Linked DNA regions of Homo sapiens. The protein of the gene in region 5 purifies or fractionates together with the protein of the main gene of each other region. This does not show direct contact. Each region holds a gene or a part of one and is shown on either strand. Other genes may lie near its edges. The genes, in order: ACBD3, KIF3B, ARMC6, DYNLRB1, AKAP12, KIF3C and ARFGEF1.

What was found.
Region 1: the proteins of AKAP12 (region 5) and ACBD3 fractionate together in Homo sapiens (co-fractionation; one large-scale study listed by BioGRID). This does not show direct contact.
Region 2: the proteins of AKAP12 (region 5) and KIF3B purify together in Homo sapiens (affinity purification with mass spectrometry, with the first as the bait; one large-scale study listed by BioGRID). This does not show direct contact.
Region 3: the proteins of AKAP12 (region 5) and ARMC6 purify together in Homo sapiens (co-immunoprecipitation; one large-scale study listed by IntAct). This does not show direct contact.
Region 4: the proteins of AKAP12 (region 5) and DYNLRB1 fractionate together in Homo sapiens (co-fractionation; one large-scale study listed by BioGRID). This does not show direct contact.
Region 6: the proteins of AKAP12 (region 5) and KIF3C purify together in Homo sapiens (affinity purification with mass spectrometry, with the first as the bait; one large-scale study listed by BioGRID). This does not show direct contact.
Region 7: the proteins of AKAP12 (region 5) and ARFGEF1 fractionate together in Homo sapiens (co-fractionation; one large-scale study listed by BioGRID). This does not show direct contact.

What each region holds. Positions count from the first base shown.
Region 1 is NC_000001.11:226,144,179-226,146,460, forward strand, and holds the end of ACBD3 (Golgi resident protein GCP60), read right to left. Parts: 3' UTR 501-2,282; downstream 1-500. UniProt on the Homo sapiens protein: Involved in the maintenance of Golgi structure by interacting with giantin, affecting protein transport between the endoplasmic reticulum and Golgi. Involved in hormone-induced steroid biosynthesis in testicular Leydig cells.
Region 2 is NC_000020.11:32,315,651-32,319,150, forward strand, and holds part of KIF3B (kinesin-like protein KIF3B), read left to right. Parts: intron 1-567; coding exon 568-669; intron 670-876; coding exon 877-999; intron 1,000-1,105; coding exon 1,106-1,224; intron 1,225-3,500. UniProt on the Homo sapiens protein: Microtubule-based molecular motor that transport intracellular cargos, such as vesicles, organelles and protein complexes. Uses ATP hydrolysis to generate force to bind and move along the microtubule. Plays a role in cilia formation.
Region 3 is NC_000019.10:19,054,103-19,057,602, reverse strand, and holds part of ARMC6 (armadillo repeat-containing protein 6), read right to left. Parts: intron 3,452-3,500; coding exon 3,282-3,451; intron 2,909-3,281; coding exon of another isoform or gene 2,813-2,908; exon of another isoform or gene 2,339-2,812; coding exon 2,207-2,338; intron 1,813-2,206; coding exon 1,675-1,812; intron 211-1,674; coding exon of another isoform or gene 188-210; coding exon 1-187.
Region 4 is NC_000020.11:34,515,106-34,519,221, reverse strand, and holds the start of DYNLRB1 (dynein light chain roadblock-type 1), read right to left. Parts: upstream 2,801-4,116; 5' UTR 2,764-2,800; coding exon 2,761-2,763; intron 1-2,760. UniProt on the Homo sapiens protein: Acts as one of several non-catalytic accessory components of the cytoplasmic dynein 1 complex that are thought to be involved in linking dynein to cargos and to adapter proteins that regulate dynein function.
Region 5 is NC_000006.12:151,351,467-151,354,966, forward strand, and holds part of AKAP12 (A-kinase anchor protein 12), read left to right. Parts: coding exon 1-2,274; 3' UTR 2,275-2,286; intron 2,287-3,500. UniProt on the Homo sapiens protein: Anchoring protein that mediates the subcellular compartmentation of protein kinase A (PKA) and protein kinase C (PKC).
Region 6 is NC_000002.12:25,972,498-25,975,997, reverse strand, and holds part of KIF3C (kinesin-like protein KIF3C), read left to right. Parts: intron 1-3,500.
Region 7 is NC_000008.11:67,221,782-67,225,281, forward strand, and holds part of ARFGEF1 (brefeldin A-inhibited guanine nucleotide-exchange protein 1), read right to left. Parts: intron 3,253-3,500; coding exon 3,122-3,252; exon of another isoform or gene 2,908-3,121; intron 1-2,907. UniProt on the Homo sapiens protein: Promotes guanine-nucleotide exchange on ARF1 and ARF3. Promotes the activation of ARF1/ARF3 through replacement of GDP with GTP. Involved in vesicular trafficking.

The DNA.
Region 1 (2,282 bases), on a different chromosome or scaffold from region 5:
TCTGTCTCCCCAGATTTCAAAAGAAAAAAATTATGCCAGTCACCCTGCCTATCAGTGGGGTCATCTGGATGTAGCAACCTCATTCTGGGACTCCACATCACACTGATCGCGCACTTCCCCACAAGTGCTCTGCAATCATCCACCCTGAGCAAGCGAGGGCTCTGCCTCTGGAGATCCATTAAAGTGTGTGGGGTCCACATATTTAATGGAACACACTACATACATGGTAGTGTAGAGAAACAACTTTATAACCTAGTCATTTTCAATAAGAAAAATCAGTGCTAGCCTTTGCATTTAAAAGTGTGGAAAAATTTAAATCTATTTTAACTCACTAAGGTAATTAATAGTAAAACTAAATAATTGGCCAGAAAGAGTTGTTTTTCAACTAGAGCCTTTTAAAACAAAAAAGATGTTTGAAACATTTCTTTTTCTCCTACCCAAATGTTGAAATACTGTACTAATGCTTCAGAGAGTAACTATATTAATGAAACATCAACAAGTTACAGATAAACATTTTAATTGATTAAATATATTACTTTCAAGATCTTTTTGAAATCGCACTTGTACTGTACTAATCAACAGCCAAAGGCAATAAGAAAGTTTAAAACCAAAAATATTCTGACATGAACACATGACAGGAACCGCTGCTATGTAAAGTAACATACACTGCTCCCAAGAACAATGATATTTTTAGGAGATAATTCATCTTAACATGTGCAAGGACAAATTTGTAATCAAAGGCTGGAAGAAATATATATTAGTGCCTGCTTTTTAAAAGTTTATTTTACATTTTAAATACAGTATTTTTCTCATAAAAAAAAAATCCAGGAAGTGCCTAACTCCATGGTTTCTATACCATATGTACATGAAAGCTGACAGAGAGCCTGACAAATGTTCTGGATGTAACAGTATGAACACCTATGAGCTGGGACTACTTCTGAATCAAAATTAAAAAACACAAATTAAGCACTGCTTAAGAAAAAAAAAATCCAGTTTCTGAACAACCAAAAGAGAACAGAGTTAGATATGTACAAAACCAGGTATTAAAAAACAGAAAGAAATACAGCACACAAAAAACTCAAACAACCCATATGTAGTGAACTGTATATACTGCAGTTAATGAAAACCCTCCTACAAGAAGTGATTTAGGATTTGAAATTTTAAAAATCTAAGTACTTCAGTAACAACATACAATAACAACATTAAGTGTATATTGCCATCTTTGTCATTTTCTATCTATACCACTCTCCCTTCTGAAAACAAGAATCACTAGCCAATCACTTATACAAATTTGAGGCAATTAATCCATATTTGTTTTCAGTAAGGAAAAAAAGATGTACCTCTTCCCGTCAATAAAGAAATAACACAAATTAAAGCTATAAAATTTAAGCATGGGCATATGTATTTCCAATTCTCCTTAATAAGTAATTCCAAACTGGAATAATGTGGGGTTTGTGACTAAGTAGTAACAAATTAAAAGAAAATAGACTGTCTCTGGCAGTGATTTCCATATTAGTGCAATGTTACTTCCCATATGCTGAATTATATTTAAATGATTTTATGTATTTTAATTCAGTAGGTGCCAATTTGAGTTTATAAAATCCTTAATTTTATTCTTTGTGCAGAAAAGTTTCAATTTGAGATACTCTATGAAGCCAAAACAAAACAAAACAAAACAAAAAACCTGTATTTTGCTACTAGTAGTATGAATACCAAATAAAGATACAAGGATTCAAAGTTTGTGGAAGTTCCTGAAGAAAAATCTCTGAGGTGTTCTACGTATCTTGATACTTCAATTATCAATTAGTTTTGAACATTCTAGTTTAAGATTATCTCAGAAAATAATTCTCTGTAATATAACTCTGAACTAAACAGCTGCACCCAAAGCAGAAACAATCTGGGTCATTCTGAACGAGATCAAACTGAGGCCATTTCTTTTTCTATTATAATCTGTGAGGTGTTGAGTTTTTAAGTTTTAAAAATGGCCTTTAATCAAAGCCAGCTGCACCTGATATAGACTTGTTAACTTATGGATTTCAAATTAGAGGACACTGTAACTACGGGCTCTCATAAGACACATGGAGCAGGCAGCAAGGGGCTAACCATCAGCCGGGTAAGGTCAACGTTGGGGTGTTTTATTTTGGAGACTTTAAATATTTAACATGTAGCTCATGTAACTTCAGCATCCACTAGTGACTCTGCTGGTCAGCACCCAAGGGCTGGATGAGTCTGAGGAATCTCCTTTAACCCCAAAGTATGAATGCTAAAGAGTCTCAAGGAAA
Region 2 (3,500 bases), on a different chromosome or scaffold from region 5:
TGCAGTGAGCTGTGATCGTGCCACCGCATTCCAGCTTGGGTGACAGAACTAGACCCTGTCTTTAAAAAATTTTAAAAAATCCCCACAGAGTCTGAATTCTATCCCATCAGTGTGCCTCTCCCATGAATTACTGTGTCCTTTCCTCATGATGGCATCTGGCGCCATATGGTTAAAGCCTGCTTGCTTGTCTGTTTTCCTCAGTGGACTCGGAGCTTTGTGATTCACACTCACATTGCATCCCCAGGACCTAACATAAAGGGTCTGCTTAATATGTTCTAAGTGGGGTTAATACTTTGTAGAAACAAGCAAAAAAAAAAAATTTGTTAAAGCTGAAATTCATGTATCTGAAGAAACTGTATCTTCAGTGTTACCAAGAAGCCTCTAGTGAAGCTGCCCCAGTCCCTCACCAGTGATGGATGGGCACAGCTGAGCACAGTGTATTTTTTCCCAGAGTTTGTCCCTTTTGGCTCAGTCCTGAGCTCTTTATCTTTCACAGGCTCCCCTGTGAGGAATTATGTTCTGAGAGAAACCGTTCATGAGATGGATTCTACTTTGTTTCTCACTCAGGCCATGGAGAGTAAGTTGCTTGTTGGAGGAAAAAATATAGTAGATCATACGAATGAACAGCAGAAAATCCTGGAGCAGAAACGACAGGAAATTGCAGAGCAGGTAACTTTTCATTCTTTTTCAGGGAGAATGGGTGAGGTAAGGTGTGTTTATGCTGCAGAGCAAACGTCTCATATTAGACTCTCTTCAAAGAGAATGAGAGCAAGGTGTGTCTGCCTCATCCTAGCTGGAGACTCTGATCCTAGCTTGGGGAACCCAGCATAGACACAGTCTCTAGGGCAAGCTGATGAATTTTGTCATGTTGCTCAGAAACGTCGAGAAAGAGAAATCCAGCAACAGATGGAAAGTCGAGATGAGGAGACCTTGGAACTTAAAGAGACATACAGCTCATTGCAGCAAGAGGTGGACATCAAGACCAAAAAACTCAAAAAGGTATGAAAGGAATGAGGCCAGATGGAGTTGCCTTGAGACTTGGGGAAAGGGAGAACTCTACCCTTTGGACAGACACCCTCCTCACCTGCCTCTCCCCTCATTCCAGCTCTTCTCCAAGCTTCAGGCAGTGAAGGCTGAGATCCATGACCTCCAAGAAGAACACATCAAGGAGCGCCAAGAGCTAGAGCAGACTCAGAATGAGCTCACCAGGGAGCTGAAACTCAAGTAAGTGCCAGGCCTTCCATAGTGCCCCCAAGCCACTTGCTGAGTCATTGATCTCGTTTGTTTAGTTAGAAACAGCCCTGGCTGGGCTTGGTGGCCTACGCCTGTAATCCCAGTGTTTTGGGAAGCGGAGGCGGGCAGATCACCTGATGTCAGGAGTTCGAGACCAGCCTGACCAACATGGTGAAACCCCGTCTCTACTAAGAAATACAAAAATTAGCTGGGCGTGGTGGTGCATGCCTGTAGTCCTAGCTACTTGGGAGGCTGAGATAGGAGAATCGCTTGAACCCGGGAAGTGGAGATTGCGGTGAGTTGATATCGTGCCACTGCACTCCAGCCTGGGCGACGGAGTGAGAAAAAAACACAAAAAAAGAAATAGCCCTGAGGACAGGTCCTTCTCCAGCTCATCTCCTGCCACCCCATGTTCTGTTCATTCCTGAAAAAGTCACTTTCCATCTCTGGATCCCATCTGTTAACTGAATGACTTCATCAGGTGATCTCCAAGTTCCCTTCTAACCCTACCTTCTCGAAGCTTTTAAAGATTCTGGTCTTACATCTGTCTGATGATAAGAGGGAATATTTTATTAACTTGACTTTTTATTGTGACAATTTTCTGAATGGTATAATAAATACCCAAGTACCCATCACCCAGATTCAAGGATTAACAAGCTTTTGCCATCTATCTTTCACAAAAATATTTTAAAGCAAATCTTAACCTCATGTTATCTCACTCCTACATACTTATATATATATATATATGATCACAGTGGTTTTTTTTTTTTTTGAGACAGAGTTTTGCTCTATCACCCAGGCTGGAGTGCAGTGGCACAATCACAGTTCACAGCAGCCTGTAACTTGTGGGCTCAAACAGTCCTCCCACCTTAGCCTCCCGGGTAGCTGGAACTACAGGTGTGTGCCACTATGCCCAGCTAATTTTTAAAAAAAATTTTATAGAGATAGAGTCTCTCTATGTTACCTAAGCTGATCTCAAACTCCTAGGCTCAAGCAATCCTCCTGTTTCAGCCTCCCAAAGTGCTGGGATTATAGGTGTGAGCCACCACACCCAGCCCACAATACTGTTTTTAAAAAAGCTTAATTGAGACATACTTCACATACCATACAATTCACATATTTAAAGTGTACAAATCAGTCCGGGCATGGTGGCTCATGCCTGTAATCCCAGCATTTGGGAGGCCGAGGCAGGTGGATCACCTGAGGCCAGGAGTTCAAGACCAGCCTGGCCAACATGGTGAAACCCCGTCTCTACTAAAAATCCAAAAATTAGCTGGGTGTGATGGCGTGTACCTGTAATCCCAGTTACTCAGGAGGCTGAGGCAGGAGAATCTCTTGAACCTGGGAGGCGGAGGTTGCAGTGAGCTGAGATCACACCACTTTACTCAAGCCTGGGTGACACAGCGAGATTCTTGTCTCAAAAAAAAAAAAATTAAAAAATGATAAAGTATACAAATCAGTGTTTTTTTAAAAGCATATATATGCATAGGGCTATAAAACCACCACTACAATCTAATTTTAGAACATTTTTATTACTCTCCTCTAAAAGAAACTCTACCAGTTAGTAGTCACTCCTCATTACCCCCTTTCCCAACCCGAAGTAATCACTAATCTGCTTCCTGTCTCTATGGCTTTGCCTATTCTGGCCATCTCATATAAATGGAATCACACACTGTGTGGCCTTTTTGGCCTGGTGTCTTTTGCTTAGCATGACGCTTTCAAGGATCGTCCATGCCGTAGCATGGATCAACAGATATCTGGTAGTCCCAACATCAATTGTTCTTTATTATGACTGAATAATATTGCACTGTATGAATAGGACACATATTTATTTATTTTTCAGTTTATATACATTCCGATTATTTCTAGTCTTTGGCTATTATGGATAATACTTCTATAAGCATTCATGTATAAGGTTTTGTATGGATGTGTGTTTTCATTTCTCTGGGATACATTCATAGGAGTGGAATTGCTGGGTCATATGGTAACTCAGTGTTTAACTTTTTGAGAGAATGCCAAACTGTTTGCCACAGTGGCTGCACTATTTTACATTTCTACCACCAATTTCTCCACATCTTCTTTTTTTTTTTTTTCTTTGAGACAGTCTCGTTCTGCCACCCAGGCTGGTGTGCAGAGGTGCAGTCTCAGCACACTGCAACCTCCACCTCCTGGGCTCAAGCGATCCTCCCACCTCAACCTCTGGAATAGCTGGGACTATAGCGGCATGCCACCCTACTTGGCTAATTTTTGTGTTTTTTGTAGAGATG
Region 3 (3,500 bases), on a different chromosome or scaffold from region 5:
CTGTCCACAGCTCTCGGAGCTCGACATGACAACCCAGGTCCCGCAGGGCGGCCTTGGCCACGTCCTCACAGTCACGGTGGGCAGATCGGGCCTGCATGATGAGTGCCTCAGCCCCCAGGTCCAGGATGGGCTTCGAGAAGGCCTGGCCGTGGGCCACCAGGTTTCGGATCAGCATGCAAGCCTGTTTCTGTAGGAGAGAGCAGCTGTGAGCTGCCAGATGGGGCTTTGGGGTGGGGTCCACTCTGACCTCAGGGTCTTCATCATAACAAGATGGAGGTGATCATAACCACAGCTGACATCCAGCAGCTGCCTATACTGTATCAAGCTAGACCCATCTCTCTACTTTACCCTCTTGGCAGCCCCACAAGGCATGGCTAACTCCCAGGCAAGGAAACAGGCTCAGGGAAGCTCCAGGATCTATCCTATGGCTTTGGAACTCTCAGCCTCAGAGTTGGTGAGCCTGAGGTCCCCCGAGGCTGGCACAGAGCCAAGGAAGGGGCCCTAGGGCAAGGGGGCAGTGAGGCCACGGGAAGACAGTGGTTGTGCACAGGCACCTGTCAATTACATCCCTACCCATTCAGTGGACATTTGTGCCCTGTGCACCTGCTGTGGGTGGGCGCGGGGCACTGCCTGGAAGCTTCCCAGGGTGGCTCCCACCACCAGCAGGACAGCAGGTGGGAAGCGCATGCAGAGTGGGGAACTGCTGGCCAGGGTGGCCAGAAGTGGACAAGGGGTCAGACCAGGTAAGGGTCAGTGTCCCAGAGTAAGAGCCAGCGAGAGCAAAGGCCCCCTGTGGGTCCCAGCCTGGTGTGTCCAAGAATCCTATGCTGGGAGTGAGGAGGCGAGGAGGGCCCCGGGGGCTGCACGGAGGAGTCTGGGTTCAGCCAGGGAGGTGTGGACAGGGTGTCCCACACTCAGAACTCAGACCAGCAGCCCAAGGAGGGGGCAGAAACCTTTCTGAAACCCCAGGCAGATCCCCATCCACGCTTCCCCAACTTCTTTCTCCCCAGATCTCTCTATAGGGACTTTTAAAAAAGGAGATTAAGGGTGCGGTGGCTCACACCTGTAATCCCAGCACTTTGGGAGGTGGAGGTGGGTGGATCACCTGAAGTCAGGAGTTCGAGACCAGCCTGGCTAACATGGCAAAACCTTGTCTCTACTAAAAATACAAAAATTAGCTGGGCGTGGTGGCCCATGCCTGTGATCCCAGCTACTCGGGAGACTGAGACAGGAGAATCGCTTGAACCCAGGAGGCAGAGGTTGCAGTGAGCTGAGATGGCGCCACTGCACTCCAGCCTGGGCGACAGAGTGAGACTGTCTCAAAAAAAAAAAAAAAAAACCCACAGAAGGAGATTACGTGTTATAGCTTTCTTTCCAGGGTTTCACCAGAAAGCCCCTCCAAACTACCCCCTCCCCAAAAAAGGAGAGTAAATGCAGAAAAAACAAAGGCAGAGAAGGAGGCAAATGAAGGCAGAATTCAGCACATTTTGCAAGATGAGAAAGAAGTTGGCCCTATGGGGCTCGGCTGTGGGAGGGACAGGGACAGGGATAGGGATAGGGACTGAGCCTTTGCCCCATCACCCACCCGCACACCGCACCTGCTCCCATGCCCTCTCTGCACCTACCTGCACATCCCACACCAGCCTGCCTGCCCCCATCCCCTGCCCTGCCCACCTGCACGCCGGCCTTCTGCGGGTGTGCCTTCATGGCCTGCAGTGCTGCCACAGCCCCGCCACCCTCCACGATGATGCGGCTGTTGTCGGGCTTACGCAGGGCCAGGAAGCACAGGGCCGCGCAGCTCTGCTCACACACCTGCAGGGGCCAGTCACAGAAAGGCTGAGATGCAGCAGATAGACCCCCCACAACATCCTGCCATGGCCACCAACCCCTGGTGAACACCCTGCGGCCTCCCCTCCGTGGGTCTCTGGCAACTCCTGTGTAATAATGGCAGGGTGACAAAAATATCAGCTCAGCTCTTAGGGGTGACAAGGGCAATAGGCCTGGTCAGATCTTTGCAGGGTGCTGGTGGTAACTCCAGGACACCCAAAGTCATGCATACGCAGGTCAGCATTTGAGAGCCAATGCCCACGACCCTCACCAGCCCTGCCCTGGCCCTGCAGGGGAATAGAGCTTCATGCAGATACAGAAACTGAACTGGGACTCCAGCCACCACCCTGCTACTGTGTGTGCCCCCCGAGGTGGGTACCTGGGGGCTGGTCAGATGCTGGGTCATAGCAGCCACGATGGACTCCGTCCCACCAGCACGGACAATAGCATCTTTCACGTCGTCGTTGCCTGCGATGGCTCGCAGGGTGCTCAGCACTTGCTTCACGAGCTCCTGCACAAGGGAAAGGCCCGCTCACCTCCAGCCAGGCCGCTGGTTGTGGGAGAGGGCTCTGAGGGAGAATGTGGGGCTGTTTTGCTGTTTGACCAACAGGTATGGTGTGACTGCAGGGTGTGACTAACGAGAAGGGGTGGCAGATGCCTGTGGCTCAGGCTGCCTGTGTCCAAACGGTACCATCCAGGTGACTTGATCCCCTACCCCGACAGGGGCAGCGGGGGCATGTGACTCAGGCCGGCCTTCAGAGCACAGGGTCCCCCTGTCCACGGCCACAGACCCAGGGTAGGCGCTAACTGCCCTGCACTGAGGACAGTGGATGAGGTGCTACTGGGACTGCTGATCCCCCGATGGAGAACCTGAGGACCCTGCCCCCAACTGCCCAGGAGTACAGGGCAAAATGTATCCCTTCATTTGCTGAAGTTGGTTCCCATTCAGCTCCTGGCCACTTGCACAGAAAGAGGCTGGCTGACGTCAACAGCTGGGCTTGGGGGCGCAGGACCGTGGCACCCCTGGGGGCTTTCCTGCAGCTGCAGCTGGATAGGGAGGCACCTGTTGATTGGCTCCCTGCTGTGGATGGGCACATGGAGAAGGGCTCAATAATCGGCTGCTAAACGGAGTAATGAGTAGGGACACTGCTCTATTCTGTAGCTAGGGAAACTGAGGCAGAGGTGCGGGAACTAACCCAAGTATCCCAGCCTTGGCCGACACACCCCAACCCTATGCTTCCTACCATCCTTTTCCTGGTGCAAAAGGACAATAAGGGAGAGCAGGTGGGTTTGTTTCCCCCCCGACCTTTGGTTCCTGCCCTTGGGTCCGTGAAAAGAAAAACTGCACTTTGGTTCCGACACTGGCAGGCAGGGCTGGCTTGTTCTGACTATAGCTCGTCCGGTTGACTGGGACCCAGAAGGACAGCACGCAATGGGCCAGGGGGACTTCATACCTGAACGCCGCTCTGGTCCCTCATCTGGTGGTCATTGCAGTCGGCTAGCAGGGACACCAGAATGCTCAGGCCCCCGAGGTCGACGACCTCCTGGCAGAACTCGTTGCGAATGGCCAGGCGGGACAGGGTTCCACAGAGCTCGCTCAGGATGCCAGGGTTATCCAGGAACGCTGCAGGGAGAAAGGGAGACGGTGGTGGGGGCGGGAAGAACCAGCCGCA
Region 4 (4,116 bases), on a different chromosome or scaffold from region 5:
TAACATACATGGTGGTTTACGCCCATAATCCCAGCATTTTTGGAGGCGGAGGTGGGCGGATCACCTGAGGTCATGAGTTTGAGACCAGCCTGGTCAACATGGTGAAACCCTGTCTCTACTAAAAATAGAAAAAAAACCCTGTCTCTACCAAAAATAGAAAAATTAGCCAGGCATGGTGGCATGCTCCTGCAGTCCCAGCTACTCCGGAGGCTGAGGCAGGAGAATCACTCGAACCCGGGAGGCAGAGGTTGCAGTGAGCTCAGATCACACCACTGCACTCCAGCCTGGGCGAAAGGGCAAGACTCTGTTTCAAAAGAAAAAAAAAAAAAGTTAAACTAGGCATCTAAATTTGCATTGCTTTTATGAGTATAACCACGGAGTAGCATAATACAGGTTCTAGAAAGCTACAGTTTAAGTAAGAAAAAGGGGGGCCATATAAGTGCTTGTATAGATGCATAAGAAACTAACAGCTGGGTGTGGTGGCTCACGCCTGTAATCCTAACACTTTGGGAGGCCAACGTGGGTGAATCACTTGAGCCCAGGAGTTCAAGACCAGCCTGGGCAACATGGCAAAACCCCAACTCTACAAAAAAAAAATACAAAAAAATTAGCAGGGTGTGGTGGCGTGCACCAGTAGTCCCAGATACTTGGGGAATTAAGGCAGGAGGATCACTTGAGCCCAGGAGGGTCAAGTTTGCAAGAAAAAAAAAAAAAGAAACTAACAATGGTTGTTTCTAAAGGAGGAGAGACTGAGACTGGGGGTTAGGAGAGTGGGAATTTTATTTTTCACTTAGATCCTTTTACATCATTTATTTTTTTACTGTGTGCAAGTATTACCTGTAAACAATCCTAAAATTCGTATGGAACCACAAAAGACTCAGAAAAGCCAAAAGAAGCCTGGACGAAAAGAACAAAGCTTGAGGTATCACACTACCTGATTTCAAAATATACCAGAAAGGTATAGTAACCAAAAGAGCATGGTATTGGTATAAAACACAGACCAATGGAATAGAATAGAGGACCCAGAAATAAATCCACTTATTTACGGCCAACTGATTTTCGACAAAGGCATCGAAAAAACAAAACAAAACAAAAACAACAACAAAAACGAAAAAAAAAACCTACCATAAATCAGCAATACCACTACTGGGTATTTATTCAAAGGAACGGAAATTAGTACATCAAAGGCATCCCTACATCCTCATGTTCATATTGCAGCACTATTCATAATAGCTAAATTATGGAATTAGCGTCCATCAATAGGTAAATGGATAAAGAAAATGTGGGCCAGGCGTGGTGGCTCACGCCTGTAATCCCAGCACTTTGGGAGGCTGAGGCGAGCAGATCACGAGGTCAGGAGATCGAGACCACCGTGTTGAGGCGGACTAACACGGTGAAACCCCGTCTCTACTAAAAATACAAAAAATTAGCTGGGCGTGGTGGTGGGCGCCTGTAGTCCCAGCTACTCGGGAGGCTGAGGCGGGAGAATCACTTGAACCTGGGAGGCGGAGGTGGCAGTGAACTAAGATGGTGCCACTGCACTCCAGCCTGAGCGACAGAGACACACTCCATCTCAAAAAAAAAAAAAAAAAAAGAAATAATGAATGTTTAAGGTGATGGATATTCTATAATAAATATAGCCTGATTTGATCATTACACATCATATGCATGTATCAAAATATTACATGTATATCTACAACATAAATGTGTACAACTATTATATATCAATTTTTTTTACAGCTTAAGAAGTGATGTGAAAAATGAAGTTATACATATTTGAAGCATTATTACATGTTTGTAATGATGTGGAGATATTGTGGTGTAATAATGAAAAACACAGAACCCACAATTGCACATTCAATAGGGGCTAAACTGTATAAACCAAAAACAAGCAAAAAAGACTAGAAGTCATATGACTACTGTAAGTGGTTGCCTCTAGGTGATGACACGGTTTCTTTTTTCAATTTTTTTATTACAAGCTCTAGATTTCTAAATAAGATTTTTGAAAAAGTAATATATTCACATGGCTTAAAATTTGAAACTTTTTCAAATTTTGCCCAAGCTGTGAGGATTACAAACACAAAACCTGTAACGGCGTTGAGAACCCACAGCTGCAGCAAGCAAGGTAGAAAGCAAGCTTTGGGATCCCCAAGAGCAGACCCCGCCCGTTCCTGACTCTGGCACCCAGTCCCAGCGGCTAGAAAGAACCACGCCGACAGAGTGGCGGCCGTCAAGCTTCTAGGGTTCAAATCCATCTCCACTATTTCCTGGGGCAAAGCACTTGGCTTCTCGGGGCGCTGAATAACAGATATGTATAACAAAATGGGACTAAAGATTGTATCTACCTCACAGAGCTGGGAGGAGGCGGAGGAAATACAAGATACATAAAGTGCTTGGCAGAGCCTGCCACAAACTGAGCTCCCGGGAAACGTTGCCAGGGTTGCCATCGCGCACCAAGGCCCCAAAACTCTAGGCTGCAGGGCCGCCGCCCACCCCTCGCCCATCATCTCTTCCTGGCCGAGGCTGGGCTCCCGCTTCCGGTCAAGGGGCAGCGGGATCCGGCGGCCCCGCCTCGGTCAGGCTTTAGAGGCCTCCGCCGCCGGGTTCCACCCTCAAGTCGGCTGGGGCCCGGGCCCGGCCACGCCCAGCCACCACCGATTCCCTGTCCGGAGCTCTGAGATCCCCTCATCCTCGGAAGACTGAAGGCCTGGCGTGGGGTGGTGGGCGGCCGCCAGCCACAAGACCCCGGCGCACGCTCACCATTTCCGACCGATCCGGTAGCCCCGCGTAGCGAACACTTAGCGAGTCCTGTGCCTTTCTGCGCCTGCGCAAAGGTTTCTGTCAAAACGGACAGCTCTAGCTGCCTATCAGGAGCCAGCGTGAGGCGGGGGCGGGCGAGCCGATCTTGGCTCCGCCAGGATTCTTGGAAAATCTGCTTTCCACTGTGGCAAAGCGAAAAGCTAAGGAGCAGTGCGCTAAGCTGTGGAAAATTCCCAACTCCAGCCGTGCAGAAAAGATGCTGGTTCTGGCTGGACGCGGTGGCTTACGCCTGTAATTCCAGCACTTTGGGAGGCCGAGTCGGAAGGATTGCTTGAGCCCAAGAGTTCGAGACCAGCCTGGGCAACATGGAGAGACCCCTTCTCTACTAAAAAATAAACAAAATTAGCCGGGCGTGGTGGCGCGCTCGTGTAGTTCCAGTTACTCCAGAGGCTGAGGTAGGAGGATCGCCTGACCAGGAGTTCGAGGCTGCAGTGAGCCGAGATTGCGCCACTGCACCCCAGCCTGGGCGACAGAGCAAGAGACCCTGACTAAAACAAAACAAAACAAAAACCATGCTGGTTCTCGGTATCGGAAGAGGCTTTCAGTGCTGGTTCTCGGTATCGGAAGAGGCTTTCAGCTCTCAATGGAGGTCTAAGCTGGTTCTGGAGTCCCTGAGTGGAGCGTGGTGGGAGGGTATGAAGGCAAGTGGGACGGTTGCTGAGACCCGCTTTGCGCCCAGACTGAGCCAGAGAGAGGCCCAGGGCCAAAATGCGCTTCGGGATCGGGCAGGCCTGGGGTGGGGCTGGAGTCAGGTACCTCGAGTCTCCGGGTAAGATGCCGTGCAAGCTCGGAGATGAATTGGTTAGGGCTGGCCTGGGAGTCTTTAGAATCCGAGCTCAGCCCCGCCTCGCGTTACCTAGCAGAAGGCACTTCACATCTGTGTGTTCTGTCTTGTTCTCACCTCTGAAAGGGGGACTCTTCCCAGAGCCCTATGTTGTCCTGTTCCGGCAGGCCGCAAACGTTTCTGGGTCCTCTAGGAGTAAATAACTTCTGTTAAAACATGCTGCCGTTTAGTGAACCCTGTGCCACATTACTGTGCTGAACACGCACATAACGTTATCTCCGGTAGCTTCAGGGAAGTATCGGTAACCTCGATACTTTATAAATGCTGTTTCTCCCAGGCACTGTAGCTTGCTGGATTCAACGATGATCTAACTCCAAAGTTTCATTCCACAGTAGCTGCTCTTCAGTGAGGAAGGATTTGGTTCTCCTTCCAGGAGTGTCTGCATGTTAAGAGGATTGACTTTACTGCGAAGAAACCTAGCAGACACCACCGTAACCAGATCAAAGTTAGTA
Region 5 (3,500 bases):
GAAGGTGGCGTACCTGACATAGAAGAGCAAGAGAGGCGGACTCAAGAGGTCCTCCAGGCAGTGGCAGAAAAAGTGAAAGAGGAATCCCAGCTGCCTGGCACCGGTGGGCCAGAAGATGTGCTTCAGCCTGTGCAGAGAGCAGAGGCAGAAAGACCAGAAGAGCAGGCTGAAGCGTCGGGTCTGAAGAAAGAGACGGATGTAGTGTTGAAAGTAGATGCTCAGGAGGCAAAAACTGAGCCTTTTACACAAGGGAAGGTGGTGGGGCAGACCACCCCAGAAAGCTTTGAAAAAGCTCCTCAAGTCACAGAGAGCATAGAGTCCAGTGAGCTTGTAACCACTTGTCAAGCCGAAACCTTAGCTGGGGTAAAATCACAGGAGATGGTGATGGAACAGGCTATCCCCCCTGACTCGGTGGAAACCCCTACAGACAGTGAGACTGATGGAAGCACCCCCGTAGCCGACTTTGACGCACCAGGCACAACCCAGAAAGACGAGATTGTGGAAATCCATGAGGAGAATGAGGTCGCATCTGGTACCCAGTCAGGGGGCACAGAAGCAGAGGCAGTTCCTGCACAGAAAGAGAGGCCTCCAGCACCTTCCAGTTTTGTGTTCCAGGAAGAAACTAAAGAACAATCAAAGATGGAAGACACTCTAGAGCATACAGATAAAGAGGTGTCAGTGGAAACTGTATCCATTCTGTCAAAGACTGAGGGGACTCAAGAGGCTGACCAGTATGCTGATGAGAAAACCAAAGACGTACCATTTTTCGAAGGACTTGAGGGGTCTATAGACACAGGCATAACAGTCAGTCGGGAAAAGGTCACTGAAGTTGCCCTTAAAGGTGAAGGGACAGAAGAAGCTGAATGTAAAAAGGATGATGCTCTTGAACTGCAGAGTCACGCTAAGTCTCCTCCATCCCCCGTGGAGAGAGAGATGGTAGTTCAAGTCGAAAGGGAGAAAACAGAAGCAGAGCCAACCCATGTGAATGAAGAGAAGCTTGAGCACGAAACAGCTGTTACCGTATCTGAAGAGGTCAGTAAGCAGCTCCTCCAGACAGTGAATGTGCCCATCATAGATGGGGCAAAGGAAGTCAGCAGTTTGGAAGGAAGCCCTCCTCCCTGCCTAGGTCAAGAGGAGGCAGTATGCACCAAAATTCAAGTTCAGAGCTCTGAGGCATCATTCACTCTAACAGCGGCTGCAGAGGAGGAAAAGGTCTTAGGAGAAACTGCCAACATTTTAGAAACAGGTGAAACGTTGGAGCCTGCAGGTGCACATTTAGTTCTGGAAGAGAAATCCTCTGAAAAAAATGAAGACTTTGCCGCTCATCCAGGGGAAGATGCTGTGCCCACAGGGCCCGACTGTCAGGCAAAATCGACACCAGTGATAGTATCTGCTACTACCAAGAAAGGCTTAAGTTCCGACCTGGAAGGAGAGAAAACCACATCACTGAAGTGGAAGTCAGATGAAGTCGATGAGCAGGTTGCTTGCCAGGAGGTCAAAGTGAGTGTAGCAATTGAGGATTTAGAGCCTGAAAATGGGATTTTGGAACTTGAGACCAAAAGCAGTAAACTTGTCCAAAACATCATCCAGACAGCCGTTGACCAGTTTGTACGTACAGAAGAAACAGCCACCGAAATGTTGACGTCTGAGTTACAGACACAAGCTCACGTGATAAAAGCTGACAGCCAGGACGCTGGACAGGAAACGGAGAAAGAAGGAGAGGAACCTCAGGCCTCTGCACAGGATGAAACACCAATTACTTCAGCCAAAGAGGAGTCAGAGTCAACCGCAGTGGGACAAGCACATTCTGATATTTCCAAAGACATGAGTGAAGCCTCAGAAAAGACCATGACTGTTGAGGTAGAAGGTTCCACTGTAAATGATCAGCAGCTGGAAGAGGTCGTCCTCCCATCTGAGGAAGAGGGAGGTGGAGCTGGAACAAAGTCTGTGCCAGAAGATGATGGTCATGCCTTGTTAGCAGAAAGAATAGAGAAGTCACTAGTTGAACCGAAAGAAGATGAAAAAGGTGATGATGTTGATGACCCTGAAAACCAGAACTCAGCCCTGGCTGATACTGATGCCTCAGGAGGCTTAACCAAAGAGTCCCCAGATACAAATGGACCAAAACAAAAAGAGAAGGAGGATGCCCAGGAAGTAGAATTGCAGGAAGGAAAAGTGCACAGTGAATCAGATAAAGCGATCACACCCCAAGCACAGGAGGAGTTACAGAAACAAGAGAGAGAATCTGCAAAGTCAGAACTTACAGAATCTTAAAACATCATGCAGGTAAGCTTCCTTGTCTTCTAAGATAATTTTTCTCTTTTATGCCAATAGATGGCAAATTTGTTACATAAGGAATCGGGAGCAAATAATTAATGCCTTCGTGTAGAACCTTCAGTTGAGGAAAATAACTATCAACTAGATTCAAAGATCTAGGATAGTTTCATGGTTTTTGGTGATTGAAATGCCATTTAGTCTTATCGATGTTATGAAAAGAACGACTTCGTTTTACCTCCTAATGTGACTGCTTTAGAATAAAATAAAACGGCATGTGTGTGTGCACATGTGCGTGTTTGACCCAAAGGCATAAGAAATACATTGTGTTCACTCAACTATCTTGTTGAGTTTTTTTAAAAATAACTAGTGCTCCAATGGCTGGGCGTGGTGCCTCACGACTCCGTCTCAAAAAAAAAAAACAAACAAAAAAAACTAGTGCCCCCAAATGGGCTAATATTAAACTGCCTGAAATATAGCTGATGATAGCTCTTTCAGAAAAAATGGATTTTTTTTCCCCTAGCAGTAGTAACAAGTATTTTTAAAAATTTTCCAGCGCATATAATGACCGACCCTCACTGTGTTAGTTACTTGCAGTTGCTAGTAACTCCCCATCTTTGTGGTTTTTGTTTTGTTTTGTTTTGTTTTCTTGAGACGGAGTCTCGCTCTGTCATCCAGGCTGGAATGCAGTGGCGCGATCTCGGCTCACTGCAAGCTCCGCCTCCCAGGTTCACGCCATTCTCCTGCCTCAGCCTCCCGAGTAGCTGGGACTACAGGTGCCCGCCACCATACCCAGCTAATTTTTTGTATTTTTAGTAGAGATGGGTTTTCACCGTGTTAGCCAGGAGGTCTCGATCTCCTGACCTCGTGATCCGCCCGCCTTGGCCTCCCAAAGTGCTGGGATTACAGGTGTGAGCCACCACGCCCAGCCCTATCTTTGTTTTGTTTTTTGAGAGAGCCTTGCTGTGTCACCCAGGCTGGAATGCCGTGGTGCAATCATGGATTGCTGCAACCTTGACTTCCTGGGCTAAAGCAAATCGCCTGCCTCTGCCTCTGTCTCCTGAATAGCTGCTGGGACCACAGGCACATGTCATTACTCCGAGCTAATTGTTAAATTTTTTTGCAGACAGGGGTCTTGCTATGTTGCCCAGGCTGGTCTCAAACTCCTGGCCTCAAGAAATCCTCCTGCCTCACCCTCCCAAAGTGCTAGGATTACAGTCGTGAGC
Region 6 (3,500 bases), on a different chromosome or scaffold from region 5:
CCTCCAAGAAAGGTGCTGTTATTGTTCTTGTTTTTTTTTTGAGGCGGAGTCTCACTCTGTCGCCCAGGCTGGAGTGCAGTGGCGTGATCTCGGCTCACTGCAAGCTCCACCTTCTGAGTTCACGCCATTCTACTGCCTCAGCCTCCCGAGTAGCTGGGACTACAGGCGCCCACCACCACGCCCGGCTTACTTTTTGTATTTTTAGTAGAGATGGGGTTTCACCACGTTAGCCAAGATGGTCTGGATCTCCTGACCTCATGATCCACCCGCCTCAGCCTCCCAAAGTGCTGGGATTACAGGCCTGAGCCACTGCACCTGGCCTTATTGTTCTTGTTTTATAGATGAGAAAACAGAGCTCCATTGAGGTGAAATAACTCTCCCAAGGCCACATGGTTGGTATAGTAAAACTATGTAAACCCAGCTGGATTTGACACAAAATCTGATGCTCTTTTAGGCTTAAAAAATTAGGAATATCAGGTTGGGAACTGGTTCCTGAGGAGGTGCTGAAAAATTATAGGAGTAGGCTGGGCAAATTATAGGAGTAGGAGTGGCTCACACCTGTAATCCCAGCAATTTGGGAAGCCAAGGTGGGTGGATTCCTTGAGCCCAGGAGTTCCAGACCAGCCTGGACAACATGGAGAAACCCTGTCTTGACAAAAAATACAAAAAATTAGCCAGGCATGGTGGTGTGTACCTGTAGTCCCAGCTACGCAGGAGACTGAGGTGGGAGGATCGCTTGAGCCCAGGAGGTTGAGGCTGCAGTGAGCCTTGATTGCACCATTGCACTCCAGCCTGTGTGACAGAGAGGAACCCTGTCTTAAAAAGGAAAGAAAAGAAAACTGATAGGAGCTGCTGTAGATGTGTCACATTTGAGGTGACAGAGTCCAGTGGGCAGCTGGAGTTGGGCCAGTGGAGTTTAGAAAGAAGCCCGAGACTGGAAATGGAGATTGGGTCTCATTTTTTTTTTTTTTGAGATGGAGTTTCACTTTTGTTGCCCAGGCTGGAGTGGAATGGTGTGATCTTGGCTCACCGCAACCTCTGCCTCCCAGGTTCAAGCGATTCTCCTTCCTCAGCCTCCCGAGTAGCTGGGATTACAGGCATGCACCACCACACCCAGCTAATTTTATATTTTTAGTACAGATGGGGTTTCTCCATGTTGGTCAGGCTGGTCTCAAACTCCTGACCTCAGGTGATCCACCTGCCTCAGCCTCTCAAAGTGCTGGGATTATAGGCATGAGTCACCATGCCCAGCCCTGCCCCTCTATTTTTGACACTCTATCCCTCTGTGTAAATGACTCCCAGATCGAGGTCTCCTCTCTGGTCTCTCTGCTGGCCTTATTATATGAAGTGCTATGTTCAGGGCATGGGCATCAGAGTCAGCCAGGTCTGGATTTAGTGACTTACCAGTTCTGAGGCCTCTGAGTACCAGTTTCCTTAGCTATAAAATGGGATAGTAATAGTATCTTTGTTACAGTGCTATTGAAATAATTAAACAAGGGCCAGGCGCAGTGGCTCATGCCTGTAATCCCAGCACTTTGGGAGACAGAAGCAGGAGGATCACTTGAGCCCAGGAATTCAAGACCAGTCTGGGCAATATAGCAAGACCTTGTCTCTAGGAAAAAAAGAAAAAGGCCGGGCGCGGTGGCTCATGCCTGTAATCCCAGCACTTTGGGAGGCCGAGGTGGGTGGATCACGAGGTCAGGAGACTGAGACCAGCCTGGACAACATGGTGAAACCCCGTCTCTACTAAAAATACAAAAATTAGGTGGGCTTGGTGGCGCGCGTCTGTAGTCCCAGCTGCTCAGGAGGCTGACGCAGGAGAATCACTTGAACCCGGGAGGCAGAGGTTGCAGTGAGCCGAGATCACACCACTGCACTCCAGCCTGGTGACAGAGTGAGACTCCGTCTCAAAAAAGAAAAAAAGAGAATTAAACAAGAGAACGAACATAAAGCACTTTGCACAGTTTCTGGCACACAAGTGTTAAGTAAATAATTATTATTGCTATGTCAAACCACCTAATAGATGTTTTCACTTGGCCACCTTCCTGATATATTAAACACATCACATTTTAGTTTGGCATTCAAGGCGCTTCAGAGTCTGACTGCAATGCATCTCTTCTATCTTGCCTGCCCAAGCCGGTTACTCCAATAGGAAAACCCTGCACCAGCTGTTCTACCCCTTCCTTTGAAATCAACATGGGCCTCCCTATCCTACTGCTGATTGCACTGTTTTTGTGTCCTGGATTGTTGCTGGTAACCAGGGAGTACGAATTATGGAAGCAGGTTAAGCTTAATTTAAAGATCTCTTTAACAGTTAAAATTGGGCTGTTTCAAGAAGAAATAGGTGGCCTTGATGGTGGTGATGATTTCACGGTTGTATACCTGTCCCCAAATTCATTGAGTTGTATACATTAAATATGTACAGCTTTTTTTTTTTTTTTTTTGAGACAGAGTCTCACTCTGTTGCCCAGGCTGGAGTACAGTGGGACGATCTTAGCTCACTGCAACCTCCGCTTCCCGGGTTCAAGCAATTCTCCTGCCTCAGCCTCTTAAGTAGCTGGGATTACAGGTGCACGCCACCACACCTGGCTAAGTTTTGTATTTTTAGTAGAGATGGGGTTTCACCATGTTGTCCGGGCTGGTCTTGAGCTCCTGACCTCAGGTGATGCACCCACCTCAGCCTCCCAAAGTGCTGGGATTACAGGCATGAGCCACCGTGCCTGACCTAAATATGTACAGCTTTTTACACATCAATCATGCCCCAGTAAAGTCATGGGCTCCCATCCCTGGAAGTGTTCAAGGAGAGACCGAATGTCAGTGGTGCACTAAGGGCTTGATATATCAGGAAAGCCGTTGAACCAGATGATCTTCAGAATCCCTTTCTCTTAAAGGCCCTTAATTGTTTAAAATGTTATTTTTTAAACAGTAAAAGAGAAAATATTTAGCTTTCTGAAAATTAAGACCAGAAGATTTAAATTTTAATGTAGTATGAATTCAAACAATAATATAATAGAGGATGTTTTTCAGCTCTCTGTCATAACCAGTTAGAGAAGAGTCAAAGACAATGGGAAGAAGAGAAGAGAGAAAGAGAGAGATAATAGGAGAAAAGCAAGAGAGAAATAGAGGGGGACAATAAAGAGGGGAAAGAGAAAGAGGTGGGGAGGTAGAGTGGGTAAAGCTGTGGACGACAGGGTTTTTGGGAAGAAGAAACCTCGATTGGGAGAGGAAGTGCTGTAGTGGAGAGAGTGAAATACTGTGTATCATTCCACTGTCCTGATCTTAATGTTAGTCTTCAAATAGGGCTATCTCCAGTCTCCAGAGACTTCCACAAAGCTGATCTGGTTCCATCCACATGTCCCCAAGGACACCAGCCCCATGCTAGACACTCTGAGATTTGTGGGGCTGTGTGATCAGCTGAGTCCTGTATGATCAGACCCTTGAAAGAAGCCTTGAGATAACAAGTGACCCATACTCCAGGCTGGGTTTGGATCCAGGTCACA
Region 7 (3,500 bases), on a different chromosome or scaffold from region 5:
GCCCTATATGGGTTTTTGTTGTTGCTTTTTTTTTTCTTTCTTTTTTTTTTGAGATGGAGTCTTGCTCTGTCGCCCAGGCTGGAGTGCAGTGGCATGATCTCTGCTCACTGCAAGCTCCACCTCCCAGGTTCAAGCCATTTTCCTGCCTCAGCCTCCCAAGTAGCTGGGACTACAGGTGCCCACCACCACGCCCGGCTAATTTTTGGTATTTTTAGTAGAGACGGGGTTTCACTGTGTTAGCCAGGATGGTCTCGATCTCCTTTCCTCGTGATCCGCCCACCTTGGCCTCCCAAAGTGCTGGGATTACAGGCGTGAGCCACCATGCATGCCCAGCCTACAGGTTTTATCTTTTATGCCATGTTTTTACTGTACCTTTTCCATGCATATATATATATATACACATATATATATATATATATATATACACACACATATATATATATGTATATGTATGTATGTATGTATGTATGTATGTATGTATGTATGTATTTTTTTTTTTTTTGAGACAGAGTCTTATACTGTCACCCTGGCTGGAGTGCAGTGGTGCCATCTTGGCTCACTGCAACCTCCGCCTCCTGGGTTCAAACAATTCTCATGCCTCACCTTCCCAAGTAGCTGGGATTACAGGTGTGCACCACCACACCCGGCTAATTTTTGTATTTGTATTTTTTAATTTTTATTTTTATTTTGAGACAGAGTCTCACTCTGTTGCCTGGGCTGGAGTAGAGTGGCACTCTCAGCTCACTGCAACCTCTACCTCCCAGGTTCAAGCGATTCTCCTGCCTCAGCCTCCTAAGTAGCTGCGATTACAGGTGCGCACCACCACGCCTCGCTAATTTTTGTATTTTTAGTAGAGAAGGGGTTTCACCACGTTGTCCAGGATGGTCTTGAACTCCTGACCTCAGATGATCCGCCCACCTGGGCCTCCCAAAGTGCTGGGATTATAGGTATGGCCACCATGCCTGGCCAAATTTTTGTATTTTTAGTAGAGATGGGGTTTCACCAGGTTGGCCAGGCTGGTCTCAAACTCCTGACATCAGGTGATCTGCCCACCTTGGCCTCCCAAAATGCTGAGATTACAGGCGTGAGCCACTGCACCCAGCCTGTTTAGATATGTTTAGATACACAAACACCACCGTATTAACAGCTGCCTACAGTACAGTAACATGCTGTGCAGGTTGTACCCAAGGAGCAATAGGCTATGCCATCTAGATTTGTGTAAGTACATGCTATGATGTTCACACAATGCTGAAATTGCCTACTAATGCATTGCAGAGAACATACTCCTGTCATTAAATGATGCCTGACTATATTTGGGACTTTAATTTTCGGTATTTATCCCCAAATCTAGAGAATTTTGGAAGAATTAAGTAAGAATGCACACAAGAAATTCTTTCTACACAGTGTTATACCAATTATAGTGCTGCACTATTTGTTGTTGTTAAAGACAGAGAGTCTCAATTTGTTGCCTAGGCTGGAGTACAGTGGTGTGATCAGGGCTCACCATAGCCCCAACCTCCTGTGCTTAGGCAATCCCGCCTCAGCCTCATGAGCAGCAGGAACTAGAGGCATGACCACCATGCCTAGTTAACTTTTTGTTCAAAGAGATGGGGTCTCACTATGTTGCCTAGGTTGGTTTCAAACAATCCTCCCACCTTGACATCCCAAAGTGCTGGGATTACAGATGTGAGCCATGGCATCCGGCCCACATTTTAAGATGGAAGCTAAATAGCAACCCATACATATCCTGGGATGAGGTAGGAAAATCAAAGGCCATCACTGAACAAAGTTTACTGATCTTTTCTCTCTCCTTTACTAACTAGAACACACACAACCTCTTTAACAACTGGAATCTACCCATAATCTGAACATGGAATATGGTGAGAAATAAGGTATCACAGTGCCAAGCAACAGAAGGCTAAGAAAGCAGGTGGATCCTCCATCAAACAGACTTCTACAAATAAATAAAGGGTGAGGGGAGAGGGTGCTGAGTTTTCATGACCTGCTAGTCATGATATGTCAGCCGCTCCACTGAGGCAGGTGGACAGCTGAAATGGGGCTATCTTGAATTTTAACAAGTTCCTAACAGGTCCACTGATAAACAATCCACCATGTCTAAATATAAAATAAAATGTTTTTCTATAGTGCTCTCATAATTAAAATCCCTAAGGGTTAAGTCCTATTTTGATTATCTATTTCATACGAATTTCTGTTGTAACAAATAATACTATAAAAATGAAAAATTTCTTGGGATATAAGTCAAATTTAACCTTGGTGGGGGATGGGGGTGGTTCTGGCATAAGGTGAGAAAAGAGAGATTCATTCTGTGCTACCTTTAGAAATTCAAAAAATTCGATAAAGTTACACATCCAAATAACAGAAGATTCTTCCAAATAAGATGGAAAGATTCCTAAAAGATTTTGTTTACCATAAAATTGAACTCACGGTGGGTTTAGAGGTTGACAGATATTAGGACACACAAGCTGGCCATTTCAATGTGGCAAAGTACAGGGTAAAAAAACTACTATGGGAATCATGTGAGCCGTGACCTAAGAACAGTGTGTTAGCATTTGGCCAGTTACATAATACCCATAATAGTTCCTTTACAGATTGACTATATGTTCATAATGATCTTTTATTGGCAATATACTTTTGAAAGAGTTCTATTTGAATAGCTCTATATTATTCCAAACTATGTTACTGACCAGGTTACAAAAAGAAATGGTTCTTCACCTAAAACCCAGCAAGGATGTGCAGTTAAAAATTCTTCTATCATTCATCAGGAAATAAAATAAATTTTGCCACTAACTTCAACTTATTATTGGAAACAAATATATGAAAAGACGGAATGTTTAAAGGATTAAATTAACTTAGAAGCTAAAATCAAATGGAGGCTATAATCAAATATTTTAAAAATAATGTAGTATTTCCATTTTTATTTTGCTCTAGTTAATATTTTTAAATCATATTAACATATTTTAAAATATACCTAATAATTAATATATTTGACAAAACACTTGATTTTATGGTCTTTAACTGTGAGATTGTGTTTATAAAGAAGAGTTAATTTGATTAAAGTCAAAATAAATCCAAAATTTTAATTACAAATATAGATTGTTACCTGGTTCTTACATCTAATTTGCATCTATTGATGATACAGGATAACTCAAAGAGAATTGGGAACCATCCTCTCACCCACACCCTGTCTTCAGGTGCTACGTTCATATCATCGCTTGTGTATTCCTTGAAAGCCTTCAAGAAAAAAGGTAGGGTTATTAAAGGCAAAACATAACACCCATACATTCAGTATACTAACTTCTCAAAAAATAATTTAAATGCTTCACAAATAACCAGTGAGCAATTTAATAAAAAATAATTTATAAAAAATGGACACTATAACTGCCTACAATTTTAGTATATGTGCCACTGAAATAGGCAAAACATAACTGCCTATAAAGAGCTCTGGACTAGAATCCAAAAGTTAGCTTCACTTTCAACTG